5 separate regions of the Homo sapiens genome follow, and regions 1, 2, 4 and 5 are each reported to be linked to region 3. The links are microRNA targets in miRTarBase. Many come from high-throughput screens and were not tested one by one. Region 3 holds a microRNA gene; each other region holds the end of a gene's coding sequence.

What was found. Region 3 holds the annotated microRNA hsa-miR-6864-5p (UUGAAGGGACAAGUCAGAUAUGCC, at 1,665-1,688, opposite strand). A microRNA usually pairs through its seed, bases 2 to 8, with sites in the 3' UTR of a target mRNA and lowers its output. Matches are read on the target gene's strand: a 7mer-m8 pairs with bases 2 to 8, a 7mer-A1 pairs with bases 2 to 7 and ends in A, and an 8mer does both.
Region 1: miRTarBase lists RANBP10 as a target of hsa-miR-6864-5p. Seed matches in the 3' UTR shown: 7mer-m8 at 882-888.
Region 2: miRTarBase lists RCOR1 as a target of hsa-miR-6864-5p. Seed matches in the 3' UTR shown: 7mer-A1 at 2,813-2,819 and 7mer-m8 at 1,803-1,809.
Region 4: the mRNA of SETD9 is a reported target of hsa-miR-6864-5p. The part of its 3' UTR that is shown has no 7-base or 8-base seed match.
Region 5: the mRNA of FRMPD4 is a reported target of hsa-miR-6864-5p. The part of its 3' UTR that is shown has no 7-base or 8-base seed match.

The regions. Positions count from the first base shown.
Region 1 is chr16:67,723,113-67,727,112 of GRCh38, reverse strand. RANBP10 (RAN binding protein 10) reads left to right here. Exons shown (of 14, transcript NM_020850.3): 14 at 555-4,000. The coding sequence ends at 685. Among named protein-coding and RNA genes, the nearest start is that of GFOD2, 5.8 kb to the right of the region's middle.
Region 2 is chr14:102,726,045-102,730,044 of GRCh38, reverse strand. It overlaps RCOR1 (REST corepressor 1), which reads right to left. Exons shown (of 12, transcript NM_015156.4): 12 at 1-3,577. The coding sequence ends at 3,539. Among named protein-coding and RNA genes, the nearest start is that of TRAF3, 49 kb to the left of the region's middle.
Region 3 is chr17:4,968,079-4,972,229 of GRCh38, forward strand. MIR6864 (microRNA 6864) reads right to left here and starts at 1,693; the gene lies at 1,624-1,693. It overlaps CAMTA2 (calmodulin binding transcription activator 2), which reads right to left. Exons shown (of 23, transcript NM_015099.4): 17 at 2,262-2,458; 18 at 1,824-2,007; 19 at 1,552-1,623; 20 at 1,422-1,442; 21 at 1,072-1,259; 22 at 829-903; 23 at 1-741. The coding sequence ends at 678. It overlaps MIR6865 (microRNA 6865), which reads right to left and starts at 2,072; the gene lies at 2,008-2,072. RefSeq lists enhancers at 1-138, 139-816, 784-1,983, 817-1,493.
Region 4 is chr5:56,916,675-56,920,674 of GRCh38, reverse strand. SETD9 (SET domain containing 9) reads right to left here. Exons shown (of 6, transcript NM_153706.4): 6 at 3,327-3,860. The coding sequence ends at 3,773. MIER3 (MIER family member 3) reads left to right here. Exons shown (of 13, transcript NM_001297599.2): 13 at 1-1,072. Among named protein-coding and RNA genes, the nearest start is that of SETD9, 9.1 kb to the right of the region's middle.
Region 5 is chrX:12,721,391-12,725,390 of GRCh38, forward strand. FRMPD4 (FERM and PDZ domain containing 4) reads left to right here. Exons shown (of 17, transcript NM_001368397.1): 17 at 1-3,133. The coding sequence ends at 468. Among named protein-coding and RNA genes, the nearest start is that of PRPS2, 68 kb to the right of the region's middle.

The DNA.
Region 1 (4,000 bases), not on the chromosome of region 3:
ATGTTGGCCAGGTTGGTCTCGAACTCCTGGCCTCAGGTGATCTGCCCGCCTTAGCCTCCCAAAGTGCTGGGATTACAGGTGTGAGCCACCATGCCTGGCCTAGGTGAGTGGATCTAACAAAAACAGAAGCTAGCCCATAGCTACCTGGGTGGTTCCCAACCCCCACCCCAATTGGCCCCAGAAAGAGCTGATGTTTATCCACACTGGGGCAGCAAGCTCTGTACAGGCCCTCTCTGGTGACTCATAGGACTCCTGGGCTCCCATGGTTGAACCTAAACCTTGACCTCTGTCTGCCCAGCTGAGTTCATGATGGGTCCTAGGCCATGGCAGTAGGCCCAGGCCAGCCCAGCGCTCTACATGGGGCTAAGGTCCTCAGGTTCCTGGCATGACTTCAGGGCCATGGCCTGGTGGCTGGGACACACTTACACAGAGGTACTGAACACTCTGTTCCAAGAGAATCTGTCCACTGCCCCCTCCTTCCACCCCCAAGGGAACTTTGACCTGGGCCCAAGCCCTGGGCAGGCCAGTGACCAGGCCTTGTCTTTCCTCCACAGAGTCCCAGAACCTGCCAAAGCAGCCCCCTCTGATGCTCGCCCTGGGCCAGGCATCTGAGTGTCTCCGGCTCATGGCCCGAGCAGGCCTGGGTTCTTGCTCCTTTGCCAGAGTTGATGACTACTTGCACTAGCTGACTGTGCTGGCTGGCTCTGGCTGGCCCTCCACTGGCCCCAGGGCTGGAGCTGCCCTGCCCTCCATAGGCAACTGGTGCAGGGACTGGGAAACCATAGACAGAGTCCACTCCTCCTGCCTGGCCTTTCCCCCTCTCCCTTTCCTTCCTTCCTTCCTTTCTCTGCCCACCACCCCGCTCAGTCTCTCTCTCTCTCCCCTTCACGTGCAGCGGCCTGTAACACAGTATTGGCTGGTTACTCTCATGTAGCGCCTTCTATTTTGAAAGGGGGGTTTTGTTTTGAGGAGGGGTTGGGGTTTTTAAATTTTTTTCTCCTGACTGAGCCACCAGTATTTATCTCTGGAGAGTTTGTGCTGAGCTGGTTTCTGCTAATTTAGTGATGAAGCCTATCCAAGTTGGTGATAGCTTATTATTTTCATAAGTAAAAAACAAATGAGATTATATATATATATATAAAAATATATATATTAAAAAAAAAGACAGTATTTATCGTAGCATTAGTGGTCCAGCACCTCTTGGGTGAGGCTGTCCAGGCACCATGTTTTCTTTGAGTCCAACTCATTAAAAAAGAAGAATCTCTGTCACCTCAGCCAAGTGATTTATTTTTTGCTCCCCCTTTTTTGAGTCACAGGCCGAGCTGCAGCCTAGGAAACCCAAATAGGGTTTGGTGGGCCACTTAGTGGGCATGGTTACATTGGTTTATAGCATCCCAAGAACTGTAGATCCCTAGGCCCCTGAGAGCTGGACAGAGCAGAGAACTACAGGGCCAAGGGTCCAGAGAAGTGATAACTTGGCCCAGGGCCACACAGCAGAGGTAGAGGGTCCTTGGCCAGCACACTATCTACCACTCTACCCCACCTCCCACTGCCTGCCTTGCTCCCCTTTCCTCCCTTTTCAATACCCTATCTTCCCTTGTTGTTAAGATGGCCAAATAATACATTTACTCTAAATTGATTGCCTGGAAACTACCTGCCTTCGTCCTGAGAGCTTCTGTGTGTCAGGCTGCTGGAAAGAAGACTCCATTCCCAGGACAGAGGCCCTTGAGTACAGGGGCTGCTTTCTTCCTGCCTAGATCTTCACCATCTCTGCACAGCTCTGAGAGAATGGATGCTTTCTGTTGAGAAACCAGTACCTTGTGGAGGCAGGTTCTTGGGCTGCTACTCCAGGGAGTGGATGGAATCCTTGGTCCCCTAGGCCAGACTTCACTGCCACTGTGCCAGACAGCTCCCTGCAGCTGGGCCCTAGCCACTCTTAGGAAAGACTATTGGGAGTATTTGCTGGCCAGAGAATGGGACTCTATCAGCTTTACACATGTCCCACCAGCTGTTTCAGATAGATCCTTACAGCTGGCAGAGTAAAAGTGGTCCCGCTACCATTGGGGAATCAGGAAAGGAAAGACTGAGATGGTTGCCAGGACTTGGGGTGGCCCACCTGTGGAGAGGACTGGCTGCCCTGGAGGAGGAAAGGGAGGAAGTCTACACAGAGGAGCACCAGGACGGCTGGAATTTCCATATGTGCTTCACATTGTGAGGGGAGTGCACAAGCCGCCCATGCAAAGAGTAGGGTCAGCCATGGCAAGGCCGGAAGTTGAACTTTCAGTCCCTGCCTGAATCTGGGCTTTGCAAGCTCCTGCTCCATATTGGTGGACATGGGAATGGTTGGTGTGGCCTGAGATACCCATTGCTCACCAGGCCTCACTGGGCCCACAGCTGGGCAACAAGAAAAATGTTTGAATTGGACCAACTGCTGGTGATGGGGCCAGGGCCCTGGGCCCTGTGCTGTCAGAATTCTGCCTTGGGAAATGATCCTATAGCTGCTGCTTTTTCTTGGTCCTTGGGGCTGGCAGACCCATAGACCATGGCCTGTTAGGAGGCGTCCTGTCTGTAAAGGAAATTCATCTCTTGTGACAGCCTGGGGCTACCTAGCTCCCAAACCCAGAAGTTGGAGACATCAGGCTGTTTAAATGATCATAGCCTAGCAGGATTGGATTAAAACCACAGGCTTTTGCAGCTGGAATGGGGTTCAGTGAACATCTCCCCCATTCCTCTCTTGCTACAAATAAGGAAACAGGCCCAGGAGATTAAGTGACTTGGCTAAAGTCACATAGCAAATTAGTAGCAGAGCCGGGACTATCCCTTATCCCTGTGGGTTGGGCAACACTATTTAGTCCTGAAACCGAATGGCAGATAAACCCCATGAGGGGTCAGGCTGATGTGCCCTCCAGCAGTATCTGAGAAGCTGCTACCTTCAGGGGTGTGTCAGGGATGAGGACGGGTGCCTGAGCTTAGGTTGTGGAGTGGCTGAGAGGGCCCAGGAGGGCTCGGGACAGCTGTGTGCTGCATGGGGTTGGGTGTCTGCCTGGCTCGCACTTGGTACCCATGGCCACCTCCCCATTTTCTGTGCCTTATCTCACTGTTTCAGCTGAGTCCAAGTTGTTTACTCTGTTCCTCTCCAGAGGGGCTCTCTGTCCCAGTTGGGCAGCTCACCTTTGGGACATAAGCCTTTGCCCCACAAGCTGTGGAGAGGGCCAAAACCAAGCTGCTTGAGCCCACTCTCTTGCTGAGAGTCCAGGCCTGCCTGCCTGCCAGCCAGAGGTGCCCCTTATGCACATCCAGTCCTACCAGCCTGCTTCCAGGAGCCTAGAGTGGGAAAGGCACCTGGGGGAGCCCTGGTGAAGGGCTGGACCTGACCCATGGAGGCAGGAGGAAGACCTGGCTTTCTTGGTTTGTCCGGCCCTGGGGAGCAGCCTTCCCTACTCACTTTCCCCTTGCGGCACCAAATGGTCACTCCTTCCAGAGCAAAAACTGGCACTCATAGCAAGCCAGAACCCCCATCCCCATCCTCATGGGTCTGTGGCTGGGTGCAGGCCATCAAAATGGACACCACGAGACAGAAGTGGGGACTGCCTGGCCACCTAGCGCCTTCCCACTCCTTAAGCAAGCACAAAGAAGATGAGGCAGAGAATTGTCAGAGCTGAAAGTTCCTTTGGTTGCTCACAACTCAGGTATGCACCCATGTGGCAGCCAGGCAGCGGAGCCCTACTAGACTGCCAGTCTCATGCACCCAGACCTGTGGCCAGATTGTGGCCTCTGGCTGCCTCAGGCATTTTCCTCTTTGCATTGGGTTTTCCTGCATTAGTAACTACAGCTGCAACAGACATCCTCCACATTGTGCACACTGGTTTTGCCTTTGTCCTCAAGAGTTGATACTTGGCATTAGCATGAAACTTGTGGGTGTGGGAGGATGGAGAGAGAACTCTAACACAAAACATCTTATTAAAATTGTACTTGAGAGACAAAAAAAAAACTCTGTTGT
Region 2 (4,000 bases), not on the chromosome of region 3:
TTACTACAGGTAAGACAGGTAAGAGAAGCTGCAGAGATTCAGGGACTGGCAGAAAGAGCATCGCACAGGACCACTAGGTTTAGGTGACCTGGCTACCTGGAGTCCATCTGAGGAAAGTTTCACTTGACAATAGAAGCTTGAATCCTGGATCATTCGGTTTAGAAACAGGCTAGACAAGAGAGAAAAAGAGGCCCTCGTTGGAGTTGGCTCCATCTTTCCTTAGCTCACATAAAAGCAGGGATCCAGTTAGCGTAATGCACTGTTTGGCTTATTTTTGGTGTGCAATTATACCAATAGTACATCTGATATTTAGAATGACAAAAATAGGGTATCGTTGAAATTTAAAGTGACAATGAGCACACTTAACAGTGGTCTGTGGTATCTGAGGAAACTTTAGATGAACAGAAAGCCACTGTTTTATGAGTCCACCCCAGTAAGCTGTTACAACCCAACTAACTACCTTTTCATGTTTGTTTTGTGTGTTGAATAGAGGTTTGTGAGCATCAGAACGTCTTATAGGTTAAAAACAATCAAAAACCATTTTGAGGAAGTGGCGTCTCCACAAACACTGTACACCCAGACAACGCGGCATTTGTGTTACACTAGCACCCGACTGTGTGCCAACACTAATGTAATCGGCACAACTGGGGTGTGGTTCCTTCCCAGTTAAAAGAGCTATATTACAGAATGGATCACTGTTGCAGACCAGTCAACACAATATTCAAGTAACAAGGTGTTTAAATGGATAAGTGAAAAAAATTTTACCTAACACTTCACACATCTACATAAAATTAAATAAAACAAACTTTTAATGCATATGCAATACAATTTATATCTTTTAGGAGTTCTAAACTAAAAGTTAAACTATTATTTGCATCAATGACACTATATTTTGCACAATAACTTATACTTAGGAGAAAATTTTCCACAAAAATATATATAATTATGACATTCACATTGATAATTTTTAAGAAGACAAAGCTTAAGTGAACATTCCATCTGAAGCAGTTATCACACCCCAAACCCTACCTGCCAATGCACCTAATTCTTGATATGTTAAAAAGTCTTCATATAAATAAGATCAAACCACTGCGCTTTTAAAGCTAAGTGATTTCTTACATTTACATCATTGCAAAGACAGTGTAATGCAACAGTTTAAAACACAGTGCTATCTTACGCGGGAAAGCACAACAAAGGCAGTCAAGGACAGCTCCCATTTTCCCTCTGTCAAATAAAAATGACATGCCCCTTCCTCTCGGGGAGAAAGCCCAGGTCAGCTGCTGTGATCACACGTGATTCTTCAGGGCTGGAGACCATTCAGTGCCAGGAACCAAGTAAAGGGATAGTGCAGAATACAGATCAAGGCCTGGCACTGCTGGTCAGTTTGCCACGCTATATAAAAATTAGCATCAAGCTTCCAAGCACTGCCAGGAGGGACCAGGCTATTTTCCTTAACAGAGATACAGACAGACCTATTGGCAGGGTGAGAAACGCACTGCAGCAATTGCCTACTGCTTCTGTTAGCAAGAAGGAGGTCTTGAGGGAAGCACGGAGAACCTAAAGCTTCAGCTCATACCTTAGTGTACCCTTTATGCAATGTGCAAACTTAGGCTGACTCCTTCCCATGCTTCTCCTGCCGCCCTCGGTGTACACAGCAGGCTTATGGTGAAAAGAAGCCTCTCCCTCATCACTAGTGTTATTTTGCTAACCCTGTCTCCAGGTAGCAGCAGCAATCCGGGACTCCTCTGATGCTTCCCAGGCTTTTACGTGACCAACACACACCTGGCACGGGAACGAGATGATGAAGGGCAGCAAGTCCCATTGTACTTTCCTTTTGAATGACCTTTCTCTCCAGACTATACTAAAAAAAAATTTACAATTCCAAAAAACCTAGGTTTCTAGCTGACCCTCTTTCTAAAGAGAAAATCAGCTGACTTCAACAACAACAACAACAACAAAAAACAAGGTGCTTGGGAGACAAAACATATCAAACTTTAATTGCATATTTTAAATTCTTCAGAATTCTGTTTAGGCCTTAAAGCATCTGCATTTTTTTGGTATTGAAAGCAGGAAAAAAATCCAAATGATGCAAACAACAACAACAACAACAAAAGCGACTTCAGCGTATTGAGTGCAGTCTGAATGGCCGTGGGGTGGGAACAGGGTATGTTAGAATGCAGGCTGTCTGCTCAACCCTCAGCAGGCCCATGGTCTGATAAGATAACAAAAGTGATTCTGGAAGTCTCAAAATGTTTATTAGAAATTTTTACTTGTTCCCAGTCCAACCAAAAGGCATTACAGACCACTCTGTAGGTTATTTCTTTTCATCTCAGTCTCACTAGACCAATACATTGATCACTTCTCTGTCCTGTACTCTGATATGAAAAGAGAGTGCATGGTGTTTGTGTAATCACATCAGCACATGAAGGACACAAACTGACATACAGAGTGCCACATAAAAGGCCAGGCACACCGAGAGAACGCGGAACAACGCGCAGCTTTCATAAACCAGCGCCAGCTATTCTAATATCCTGACATTTAAAATCTGCACTGTCAGAATCTGCAGCAAGCTCTCCCCTGTCTCCTAATCTCAGTGATGTCATCTTTGGCTAGCAAATAACTTGAAAGAAGAAATAAGACACTAAAACAGAAAAAGGATTGATAACCATGGTTGCCAAAAGGAGAAGGCACCAATTCCAAATTTACAAGCACCAGGTACAGTGATGTGGGCCGAACCTCTTGGAGGTGGGGGGGTGGGGGGGGTCAGGAAAAGATGGGGTGGCAACCACCCTGGGGTCACAATGCTGAAAAGTTGAAGGCAGAAAGCATTGAGGTCCACGTTCCCTTTAAGCTACAGTGTCCAACGACAGTTGCAGTAAATGATCTTTGTAACACTTGGGAAGGGAGAAGAGGGAGATTTAAGCCAACTCAATTTATAAATCATAACTGTACCCCATGTTTAGGGAAATGTGAGTTGCATCAGGATGCTTGGCATGATAAAGGTTATGATGCAGTCTGGCAATATATATTAGTTTCCAAAAAAGCGTATTATCACTTAGGTGGTTGTCTCAGAAAAGAACAAAAGAAACTTTCTAGAAGGCCAACAGGGTCGCGGTGACTCTGAAAATGACTCTATGCACAAAGTAGAAACTGCAGGCCATGCAGGAACAGAGTCGGGCCTTCCAAGGAGACTGCCTGCTCTGAAGCTGCTGACTGGGAAGAGCTGCCATTGGTGGGGCTCGGGGGCTCCGGCGGGAGAGGCGGTTCCCAGAGTCACAAGAGATGTGCAGGCCGTGAGACTTCCCCAGCACGTGGGCAGAGTGTGAGATGCAGTGGAGCTCTCTGGGAAGTGGCGCCAACATGGAGGAACGAGCAAAGAATTAAGGCAGATGGAGCACAGGACTGGAAGTATATGCCTTTTTTGGTAATAGCTGCTTGTCCAGAGAGATGTGATGCAGATGGCTAGGTGATGTCTCATAATACCTGATATCCCGGATAACACAGTAGTCCACACCAAGTGTTCAAAGCCACCAGTTTCTCAGGAGGCAGATGCATATCTGACATCCAGAACAGGAGCCTGAGGCCAAGAGGAAAAAAAAAAAAAAAAGGATCAAAGAGTAGGTAAACAACACAAGCTGCTATTTCCAGTGTACTGAAAAGAGAAGGTAGCCAGCAAACCTGCAGAGCAAACACCGAGTTCTTTTTTTTTTTTTTGGAGGGGAGACAGGTCTCACTCTGTCTCCCAGGCTGGAGTGCAGTGGCGCTATCTCGGCTCGCTGCAACCTCCGCCTCCTGGGTCAAGCGATTCCTCTGCCTCAGCCTCTCAAGTAGCCGCAACTACAGGCACCTGCCTCCACGCCCAGCTAATTTTTGTACCTTCAGTAGAGACGGGGTTTCACCATGTTGGCCGGGCTGGTCTCGAACTCCTGACCTCGTGATCTGCCTGCCTCGGCCTCCCAAAGTGCTGGGATTACATGTGTGGGCCCCCACGCCCAGCCCA
Region 3 (4,151 bases):
CCCGCCGCGCTAGAGAACCACAAGCCCGGCCGTGCAGCCCTCCCCGCGGCGCCTTAAATAGATTCTTCACTATACTCTGTATGTTACAGTATGTACAAGACCCCTCCCCTCGGGGGACGGGGCGGACTCCGCAACGCGTTCCTATGTACACCACCTCCCCTTCGGCCCTGAGGTCAGTGGCCAGAGTCGGGTGATGGGGTAAGACAGGGCCAGAGAGGGAGGAAACAGACGCAAACATGCGGAGTCGGGTGGGGACACGGTCAGCCCTGAAACACGAGGGGCGTGCGCAGCGAAGGCAGTGGTGGGAACCGAGGCGGATACATTCAGAGACGCGTCGAACAAATAAATAAGGCAAGTCAGGAGGGGGCCGAGTCGGGTGCAGGCAGGAGGAGCTGGGGAGCAGGGGCAGGCAGGGCTCCGGAGGTCACAGCGGAAGATGCAGGTATGTGGGGCGCGGGTTTTCTGGAGCCAGGACCAAAAGAGACGGGGCACGACCAGGAGGGACGAGGAGAGGGGTGTGGGAGCAAGGCGTGGGGAGGAGGGAGGAGGCCTACAGAGGGCTCCAACAAAGGTGAACAGGAAAGCTGCCGACAGGGGCTCCCCCTGCCCCAGAAAGCCCTCTCCCTGTTAAGACTGCACGAGGCGCCCCCAGGGTGGTGAGAAAGGCGGTGGCCAGGTCATGTGGCCAGTCCCGGCTGGGGAAGCCCTTCCAGCTCCTGGTTCTGCTTCAGTTCCCTCATCCTGCAGAGAGAAAGATAGGAGTCAGAGGAGACTGGCGGATCACGACGGGTGGCAACGCAAAAGCCCAGGGGGAGAAGGGATGAGTACCTGTGTCGGCAGCGCCGCAGGAATCTCATGATCTTCCGGGCTGCCTGGTCCTGCTTCTTGGTGAGAAAGGAGCCTCTGGTGAAAGAAACAAAAGATGGACCTCACAGAAGGCATCGCATGCCTTCGGCCCCCCCAGGAACCCTAGGCAGGGAATGGCAGTGAGGCATGATGATCAAGAGGATGAGTAAGGGGGAATGGCGTGGATGCAGTGGGTGGGCACAGAGGGCTGGGGCTGGGCCCTACTTGTTGCGGGCAGGCAGGGTGGCCGAAGTCCGGTGGGGAGGGCCGGGCCTGCGGCGGTAGGAGCGGTAGTGCTGCTGGATGAGCACAGCCGCTCGGCGGCTCTGCTGAAATCGCTTCTGTTCATAGTAGCTTCGGAACTTGCTCTGGATCAGGATGGCCGCCTGGGTCATCTTCTTATAGAGTGCAAACTGCAGGGGTGGGGAGGAGGGACAGGGGCTGAAATAGAGGGACGGAGACCCAAAGCCCTGAGGCTCACCCAAGTTAGGCTGATGCAAGACTCTCTGTAACCCACACACTCAAGGAAAGACTGAATCATCACAGACCTCACACTCAGAGCTCATGCCTAATACCTTAAGTGCAATCCAGGTCAGCTTGTGGAGAGAGAAGGGGAGTTAGGGCTCTGGCAACATTCTGGAATGGTTAGGCGTGGGTGTGGGTTGGTGGGTTGCTGGTTACACTTTTGAGGGAGAAGGGTCTCACCTGCTTGTACTTCCGGTAACAGCGCTGGATTACAGCTGCTGCTACCTCCTGCTGCTCCTTCAGCCGCCGGCCCTGAAGGGAGAGAAGTCTCACCACCTCATGACCCACATAATGGCATATCTGACTTGTCCCTTCAACTTTCCTGGGGTTCCCCTGACCCTTTACCCCATCCAAGGCCTGTCTGCACGACTACTCATCCTCCAAAAGCCCTGGGAGCCCAGTCTCCCCTGACTGGAGATTGTGTAATTCATCCTGAGACCCCTGCCCCTGACCTTGTACTTTCGGAAGGCCGTCTGGATGACTCGGGCAGCCTCATACAGTTCCCGCTGCTCGTGATCTGATAGTGTCAGCAGGGCAAAATCACTTTCCATCTTGCCACTGGTGGATGCAGAGAGAAACTCTGCCCAGGAGGGTGCTGAAGGGACAGCCAGGCGACCTCGCTCAAAGGGCAGTTCGCTGTAGGCGGTAGGGAAAGAGGGTGTCATGAAGCATCTGAAGTCCCTCCTCTGCCACCTATGGATGGCTACGAAGGAAAACCACCAGCAACTGAGTCTGGAGAGTGACTTCAGAGTTCATCAGCCAGTTCAGTTCGCTTCTCCAAGGCCCTGGGGCCTCAGCCAGAATGGAGCTTTGGCTGTGGGAAAGCCAGCTTTCTCCCTTCCTCCCATCTTCCTTTGAAGAATCTGGAGGCTTTGTCCTGAGCTAGTCACCTGGGAGGGGTTGAGCTGGGGAAATGGTCCACATTCTCCAGGTAGCTGGCCAGCCAGGACATGGTCTCACTGAGCCCCACAGCCCCTGTCCGCTCCCGCATTGAGGCTCCAGCCTCGGGCAGCCCCACGAAGTCCTCTCGTTTAATCCGCTCCGGTGTGGCTTCGATGATCTGCTTGGCTAGTGAGATCATGTCCACCTGGAAGAAGGGAGAAGCTGAGTGAGTCCTTAGGGGCCCCAGCTGCCAGCTGTAACCTCAGTCCATTCCTATCTTGTTCCTTCTCTCCCTGCCAGGTGCTGCTAACCCTGTCTTTCTGGGCCACTGTTCCAGACTCATTCATTTATACTGATGGGGCTCCCACTTGGGGGTCCCTCTGTGCTGAGATGCTATGGAGAATATAGGATAAAAAGGAGATACTCCAAGTGGGGATTCAAAGCTGAACAAATGGAGGACTTGACACCCTTTCAGGCCAACCATCCACTGTCCTACCTGGGCCTGCCCCATGCCAGCTGACCAGCACATGCTCCCCATAGGCTTGGCTGTGCCCACCCCCAGCTCCCTTTCAACTCTCCAAGAACCATTCCAACACTTGCCAACTACTACCCGGATGAATGGCTCCAGTCTGGCCTTTGCTCCAGCCCTGAAGCCTATACTCCAGCACTTCCTGCTGGACACACTCAACACAACCTACTTGTGGAGTTCCCTAAGTTTTTTGTACTTAAAGTGCCACCCACTTACTCCATTAGTCTCTCTAAAGCAGGTATGTCCCCAGTCTCTATCAGAGAAGTACAAGGCTATACTTGAAGATTCACTTTCATTCCACAAGACTTTCTTAGCTTTATCATGTGCAAGCCTCCTTCCTGCATCAGATCACTGCCAAATACCCTCATCTTGCCAGCCTTACCTCTCCACACAACTCCCAGCTGCCCTCCGTCATCTTGGTTCTCCTAGAACCTTGTCCCTACATAGATCAACGGTTAACTCCTACAAACCAGCTCTAACTGAAGATATTCCCTAGAATTTTTGTTATAGAGACAGGGTCTCTTGTCCAGGCTGGAATGCAATGGCACAGTCAGCTCACTGCAACCTCATATTCCTGGGCTCAAGGGGTTCTCCTACCTCAGCCTCCCAAGTAGCTACAACTACAGGTGTGTGCCACCATGCCTATTTTTAAAAAATTATTTTGTGTAGAGATGGGGTCTTGTTATGTTGGCCAGACTGGTCTCAAGCCCCTGTTCTCAAGTGATCCTCCCACCTCGTTCTCTGAAAGTGATGGGATTACAGGGGTGAGCCACCGCACCCAGCCAGAATATTTTTTAATGCTTTTTATATTTTAAATCTTACTATTTTGTCTTTTTTTTTTTTTTTTTGAGACAGTCTCAGTCTGTCACCCAGGCTGGAGTGCAGTGGTGCAGTCTCGGCTCACTGCAGCCTGTGCCTCCTGGGTTCAAGTGATTCTTGTGTCTCAGCCTCTCAAACAGCTGGGATTACAGGCACATACCACAGTGCCCAGTTAATTTTTGTATTTCTTGTAGAGAGGGGGTTTCGCCATGTTGCCCAGGCTGGTCTCAAACTCCTGGCCTGAAGTGATCCACCCGCCCTGGCCACCCAAAGTGCTGGGATTACAGGCGTAAGCCACCAAGCCCGGCCAAATTTTTTTTTTCCAACATCTGTATTGTGGGACCAGCCAGAATTTTCAACCTCCGCTGCCTCATGACTTCCAAGTCACATGGTCTAAAAGGAGCTAAGCAAAAGGCTACCTTGCCTGTCCCAAAATGAAGTAAATAGGCCCTTCCTAAACTGAAGCCAGACTTTGATTCTGCTTCATGGAAGTCGGCCTCACCCTTCCTACTCCACTTCTAGCCCCCATAACTCCATCAATATAAGCAGT
Region 4 (4,000 bases), not on the chromosome of region 3:
CTATTTATTGAATTTTCTTTTAAAAGCTGGATTTACTGGGTTTTTTTTTTCTCTCAGTTTAAACATCTTAACAGAGAATTTGTTACTGTTTATTAAAAGAATTGCATTTGGAAGCAAGAAAACAACCGGATTTGCAATCATGTGAAGAAACAATAATGCCTTTATTATCAAGTGTTAAGCACAATTCTTATAACAAACTGTGATAAATTCTTTTTGTTTTTTTTTCCTTTGCCCCATTATTTTCTTATGAACAAACCAAAAATTCATGGTGAGCAGTTGCAGTGTTGGCTGATATATCTTTTATGTACAGGGAATTTGAAAAGGACAGTGGATTCATTTAGAAGTGTAACTGGTGCTGTGATTATAGCAATACATTTGTTAGTTGTACTTCATCTTTTTCATGCTAGCTTTTTAAATGTTTAGTTTTCCTCTTGTCATGGTCAGCTGCTGAATTTACTTGAAGGATGTAGAATACTGTTTAAAAAATACTAAAATTTGTACAATTAGATCAAAGAATTGTGCAATCATTTCCTTTTTAATTTTTAAAATGTTGAGGCTCATAAATATTTGAGAACATCAGATCTAATAGAGCATAGTGATACTATTTAATTTAACCAAAGTCTCTAGTGAATATTTCAACTTTGAATGTAAACTAACAAATAAACCTGACCACCAAGGAGATTGTTTGCCCAGAGTTTCAAAGCACATTGTCTACAAATGGAAATTGAAATAATTTATAAAATATTGACGTTACTATGTTTTTTAAAAAGTTCCTAATTTTTTCACTAAATGGAGGAAACTATTAGTTTTATTGTTAAATATGGTAGATATTAATATTCCTCTTAGATGACCAGTGATTCCAATTGTCCCAGTTTGAAATAAGTACCCTGTGAGTATGAGATAAATTAGTGACAATCAGAACAAGTTTCAGTATCAGATGTTCAAGAGGAAGTTGCTATTGCATTGATTTTAATATTTGTACATAAACACTGATTTTTTTGAGCATTATTTTGTATTTGTTGTACTTTAATACCTGGTGTACAGTTCCAGAAATAAAAATCTGGGAATCTTTTTTTCTTGGTTTGTGTGAATATTTGCCAAAAATACAGATATTTTATTTAATGAATCTTAAGCTACAGCAAATAGATAGATATTATACCACTGTTAAATTGGTTTTAGATGCAGTAAATAAGATATATGATAGATAGTGAAGTTGGTAGATTAAATATTTTCCTTAAATCCTCTATAATTTCCATCTATAATAAAAGTCCCCCTGTAATCCCAACACTTTGAGAGGCCGAGGCGGGCAGATCATGAGGTCAGGAGTTCAAGACCAGCCTGACCAACATAGTGAAACCCCGTCTCTACTAAAAATACAAAAATCAGCCGAGCGAGGTGGCGCATGCCTGTAACCCCAGCTACTCAGGAGGCTGAGGCAGGAAAATTGCTTGAACCCTGGGGGTGGTGGTTGCAGTGAGCTGAGATCCTGCCATTGCACTCCAGCCTGGACAACAGACTGAGACTCCATCTCAAAAAAAAAAAAAAAAAGAAGTCCCAAAGTAAGGATTATACTTTTAGTTTAATTCAGGAAACATTTATTATGTTTCAAACGCTGTTCTAGGTAACTGTCTTTTATGAAGACAGACAGATCTGAAATTTGGTCAAATATTATTATTATTTGACAGACTACATTTATGGTCAACTAGTCTTCCTTATCCATACGATTCATAGTTTGACCGTAGTCATATCTATCTTTCCTAAACATCTTTTTAAGCTAAAGCTCCTATCTTGCCATTATTTCACAAGTTTGTCCCCATATTTCATTTCCTCTGACCAGAGCTTTATGTAGTTCCATTTTTAAGATGCAGTGATCAGCTTGCCCATAATATCCAAAGTTTGTACAAGGCCAAGAAGGGGATAAAAGGAAAGCAAAAATCTTGACTCCTCTGCTTTGGTTACTTGACTAAAACCACATCCCTTCCTTGTCAGACACGAAAGGACCTTAGCACATAGGGCTCTGTGGTGGACACATGCACAGAAGTGCCTTCAGAGCAGGGACAAGCACACATATTCCGAATACAGCAAGAATGCAACAATGTGCCATGTGAGAGCTCAGAGTATTTTCAGGCTTTAGGAGACGGAAAAGCCTGTGGAAGCAGGATAATCTAGTACATCTGTTACTAGAAGTCATTTTGGCCATAATTTCCATCTATGGTACGCTTTTTGAGCTTGCTGGTGGTAAGTGCTAAAGAGAATGAGGAATATGTCAGGGTTGGGAGCAGTGAGGGATTGTAAATTTCAGTGGGGTGATGAGGCAACGCTCCTCACTGAGGTGACAGGAAGGGAGAGAACAAGCTATGTGGCTGTCTGGGGGAAGATGTTTACAGGCAGAGAGAACTAAGTGCAAAAGTCCTTGGTTGGGAATGTGCCTGGCAGGTTTGGGGAGTGGCCAGGAGGCAGGTGTGGGTTGGGATGGAGTGAGCAAGGGGAGAAAGGAGAGGAGCTCTTGAGGTCATGAGCAGGTTATGCATGTGAAGGACTTCAGCATTTACTCCATGATAGGGAGAGGGTTTTGAGCAGACGTATGTCAATACCTGACTTTCATTTAAAAGAATCACACTTGGTGATATGTTCTGTAAGGGGGACAGGAGTGGAAACAAGGAAGGCAATTGAGAGGCTACTGAAATTGCAATAAACTAGGTGAGTAAAGCTGGTGGTAAGGAAGTGAAGGTAATCAGAATCTGGTCATATAGGTTCCATGAATTTTTGAGGGATCCAGTAAAGAACACCCTCCTTCCTATCCAAGTTTGGAACTGAGAGAGCTGGAGTCAGGTCGATGGAGGTCAAAGTAACTATTGCTAATAAAACGGGAAGGTAGCTTCAGGGCTGCAGCCAGGTTGGCCTGCCAATATATTACACCTCTGGACTCACTCTGTCACTGGCTGGGCTGGCTACAGGCTATTCTCTGCACAAGGCAGAGAACTGCCAGGACACATTCTTTCTGCTGGCAGCCAGAGTCCACAGGGAAGGAACTAGAAGGGTATATAGGACATGGGTGCCTAGTTATTCTCCAAACATAATCAGGGAGTCAATCTCCCTCCAGTGGGTGGAGAGAGAGGCTAGGAACATTAACCAGTGGAAGCCCTCCACATGAAGACATGAGACACGGGGAATAAGTGTTCCTCCCACCAACACTATCTTGCACTTTTTTTCCACCTTTTCTTTGGTGTGAAAATGTTCAAAGAGTAAAGAAAATAGTAATAATGACCTCACATTTTCCCCTCAGCCAGCTAGAGCAATCTTTACATTATACATAGACACACCAATTTACTCATGGCAACACAATAGGTATTTTTTACTCAATTCTGTAAAAATAAAGTTTTTACAGAAGTTTGTACACATCAGCAGTACTACAAGAACTGCTGATGCCTGGCTACAATTTTATAAACCACCACAGAGCTTACAAAATAAACAAAAGAAAAATTGAAATTATAAGTTCAAAGAGTAGGTTTTAATTTAATAAGCTATTGTGTATTTAGGTGAAAACCAATTAAACTTGGAATTGCATTACAAATTTGAAATTGTAATGAAGCAAGTAGCTTTTATCATGAAATTGGAACATAAATATAATATCAACAAAAACATAAGAAATTCCTATTCCAATTAAGTCTCAAAATATTTGTTTTACAGGTAGAACTCAGAGAAGTGATTAACAAAAAACACTTAGAATTAATAGCTGAGTAGAAAACCTAATAATTTCTGATTCACAGAGTTAGCTGACAATTGTGTAGTAGTTTGAAAAAAGCTCTTCTCCTTGATTGATGTCCCTAAGTGCGACAAGAACAACACATCGAAGTGGGCTGAAAACAAAAAGATATACAAAAGGTAGAGCATTAACAAATATAAGCTCATATTTTTAATATAACCAAGATGGCTTTTATAGAGGTAACTTTACTCAGGTTCCTTCCATTTTAGTTTATGCATTTGATTTCCATGAGGA
Region 5 (4,000 bases), not on the chromosome of region 3:
GCAGCCCAAAATGATGCCAATGAGCTGCTCTGTCTCGTCAGGGCAACCAAGGAGAAGAGGGAGGAGTCACGCCCTGAAGCGTACGACCTTACACTTTCTCAGTACAAGCAACTGTTATCCATTGAGTCCAGACAGTTGGGAAGTGCCTGTAGGAAAATGGCGATGGCTGAGAAAAGCCCGGAGGAGATGCTCCTAGCTATGACTTCCAGCTTTCAAGTGCTCTGTTGCCTAACAGAAGCTTGCATGCGATTAGTTAAAGTCGTGAACTCAGAAACACAGCGGCAGGAAATTGTAGGGAAGATCGATGAAGTGGTCATAAATTACATTTGTCTACTGAAAGCTGCCGAAGCAGCCACTGGAAAGAACCCTGGGGACCCTAATGTTGGACTCTCGGCGCGACACTCAACCACCATGGCCGCTCTCGTAAGCACACTGACACGTTCTCTCAAGAGGCTTTTAAACAAATAAATATGGAAGTCACGTCATAATCTACCTTTGCAAAGCCATACATGAACTTTTATTTACTTTGTGTGTATGATGAACAGATGTCTCCTTTCTTCTCTCTGTATATTTTGTTATTTTATATAAAATAGGAGATAAAAGTCACATTGATGAAATGTTGAAATGTACTAATCAGATGTATTCTGTTTATATTATACATATATATACACGTAAAAGAAATATCCAAGAAAGTGATGACATTTGGCTATTTTTCATATAGTTAAAACTCCAGGTATATGATGTGAAATTTTAAATTCTACCATGTTAGAGCAAAACAATGAATCCTATCCCCTTTCTTTCCAAGTAGCTACTTGGAAACCATATCATTCATATTTAGAAGTAAAACACAAAACAAAAAAGAGAGAGAAAAGAAAAGAAATCACAATGTATATAAAACAGTACTTATGTTTTAAAATTATGATTTTTAAGCATTGGAAATAGCAAAAAGACATTTAAAATTCAAGAAGCTATTATGAATTACTAGAGAATATATCTGTAATAAATTAATTTTTTGCTCATAGTATTTGGTTACTGGATGCTTTCTTCCAAGAATCCCACATATTTAATTTGGGTTTTTGCTACTGGGGCTACAAATTGGTGGGGATGGATTCTACTGTGTCAGCACAAATGCTCTTCACAGTGGTTCTAGCATTTAAAAAACTTCCCGGGGAGAAGAACAGAGGGGATGATGGGCAGTTTCCTAGGTAACACCTAGAGTTATAGAATATCTCATTACATAAAATGTATGGAATTAATAATACCAAAATTAATTATTTGATGGAAAGATCTGCTTTGACTAAATGTCAAAAATCTGCAAACCAAAGACATTATCTTCCCCTCATCCCAACTCAACTACGAAACTTAAAATTCCCTTTAGAGTGATAGGACATTTAGTAAAGTATTTGCAAACTTAAAAAAAGGAACATTTAATGATCATCAAAATTAAGTACAGATTCAGTAATGTAGACCAGACCACACACCAGCACCTGTGAGTCTCATCTCAGATCACAGCTCTCAGCATAGGGCTTCATGCATCACCGCCTCTACAGAGGCTAAGGCTGCCAGTCAAATTTGGAATTATAGCGTAGTACTGGGACAAAATCTCAAATCTTGGATGTTCCAGAAAATCAGGGAGAGATGGCTACTGTAATCATGGGAGCCATGAGTAAATAGTTAAGTATTTATTAAATAAATACTTAATCTGGATTGGCTGATAAAAATATGAAATCTGAAAAAAAAAAGAAAGAAATGGAAGTGGTATATTTGACCAGTTCAAGTGAAACCAATGGAATGCAAAGAACTTTCCAGGACTGTCACATCTCTAAAAGTACCCTGCAGTCATAAAATAAAATCGATATGTATATATGTATTTCCTGGGTCATTCAGTGCTCAAGTTACATGCACTCCTACTTAGACAGGTGGCTCCTTAAGAACATGATGGGAGTACACCAGGTGCAAATATTTCTACTTTTGTAGCCTGCTGAGAAGGAGTCATAACACAGTCCACAATTGCAATCTCTCTCTAGTCAGCCATTCCACAGGGACTCAACAACAAAAGCCGCACGTGGTTATGGATGGCAGCAAAGGAAAGGAGTTTAGGTGTGTGTTATTATAAATAATGTTTAACTAAATAATAAAACATTATTTCATTACAATTATAATTATAAATATTGGTGTTTTGATATTGAGAGATATTAGTGGTGTTTACTGTGGAAAATCTTAGTAAATATCATTCTGTGTACTAAAATCCTAACCTATTAATAGGATGTGTGCCCTATGTCAGACAGTGTGCTAAGCATATTAACTATATTATCTCATTTAATCATCACAACAATCTGCTGGTTTGGACACTATTCTCTCTGGAGGCAATATGGATGAGTTCTTACGGATATGGGGTTTGGGGTCAGAAACATCTTGATTAAAATTTTGACTCTGCCATTTTCTAGCCCTTTTATGTTGGGAAAGCTACTTTTTCTAGTCTCAATTTCCTCATAATAAAATGAAAATCAATTATAAGATCGATTTCCATAGGGTTGTCATGAGTTTTGAGTAAAAATGTGTATGTAAAGTTCTTACCACAATACCTGGCAGAGAGTAAGTATTCAATTAATGTTAGCTATTATTATCATCATAATCGTTGTGTTAAATATATTGCCCAAGATAATATGTGGGGGAATGTTTGTTTTATATGCATATTGTATCCTGACTGTGTGCAGAACACATTATGTGTATTGCATATATGTAAAAGAAGTGTACAAGGAAGTGGCCATCCTTGTTCAAGTTACGTATCTAGTTAGAACAACTTCCCAGTCCATTGGAGTTCTTTGAGAAGCCTCAGGGAAGTAGCTCTGGGTCCTTCTAATCAACCTCCCATTACTGCGCCAGTAAGTTTCTGTTTCTTATAAATAAACTCTTTGCTATTCAGAAAACCTCAAGGGGCCCCCACATTCACTAAGCATGGGGCTCCTAACTGGGGTCCAGGTCCATAGAGTGTAGGAAGAACATATTAGAACAATACTTGTGCTTATTTTTATCTAGCTTTTTTATGTTTGTGTATGTTTTATAATGGCATAATAGTACAATGGTACATGTACATAATTTTAAATAAATAAATGAATGAATGAATAAATAAGCATATGCCTGGTGCATGCATGTGACAATATTGTCGCAGGTAGGGTTGCATTCACTGAAATCTGGAGAGCACTGAACTGGAGAATAAACCTTCCTTATACTCACGGTTCTTTATGTTTAGTCCCCAGTCTACTTTGCCAAGTTTATCTCCTACCATTTTTATTAATCTTTTATCACAAATCTTTCAAACAAAAGTAGACACAATCGTATGAATTCATGTGGACTCATTACCTACCGATTCATGTCTAATCTTATTTTCTGTATTTCTACCCACCTCCTCTCCCACTGTATGATTTACAAGCAAGTCCCAGACATCATAGTGCTTAGCCCATGAATATTTCAGTAAGAATATCCTGTGAGAACTTTTAAACATAACCACAATGACGTTTTTGCATTTTAAAAATTGGGAATTCCTTAATATTATCAAATAAACATTACAGAAATAAATGATGGAGAAAGTAATAATCCCCTTAAACCCAACTTCCAAAGATAACCATTGTCCACAATTTAGGGGCTCTTCATTCCATCCTTTACTGTATTATATAGTAAAGTTATTTGTATTTTATTGGTTTATGAGCTTTGCTTTTGGCTCAGAGAGTTGTTCTGACCACAGTTGCCCTCGTACCTAAGTGTCAGTCCCAGCCTATTTCACATAAGTGAATTCGTCAGAAGGGATATGATTGATGTGGAAGGACAGAGTACTCAGATCAACAACCACACAGCATTAGCTTCAAGAAAAAAAAAATCAAAAAATGAATGCAATTGCCGAGACATTAAAATTAACACAGATCCCACTAACCTTAAGCTCAGCAGAAATTAGTCTAATCACAAACGAAATTATTTTCCAGAAAAGCCTGAAATCCCTAGC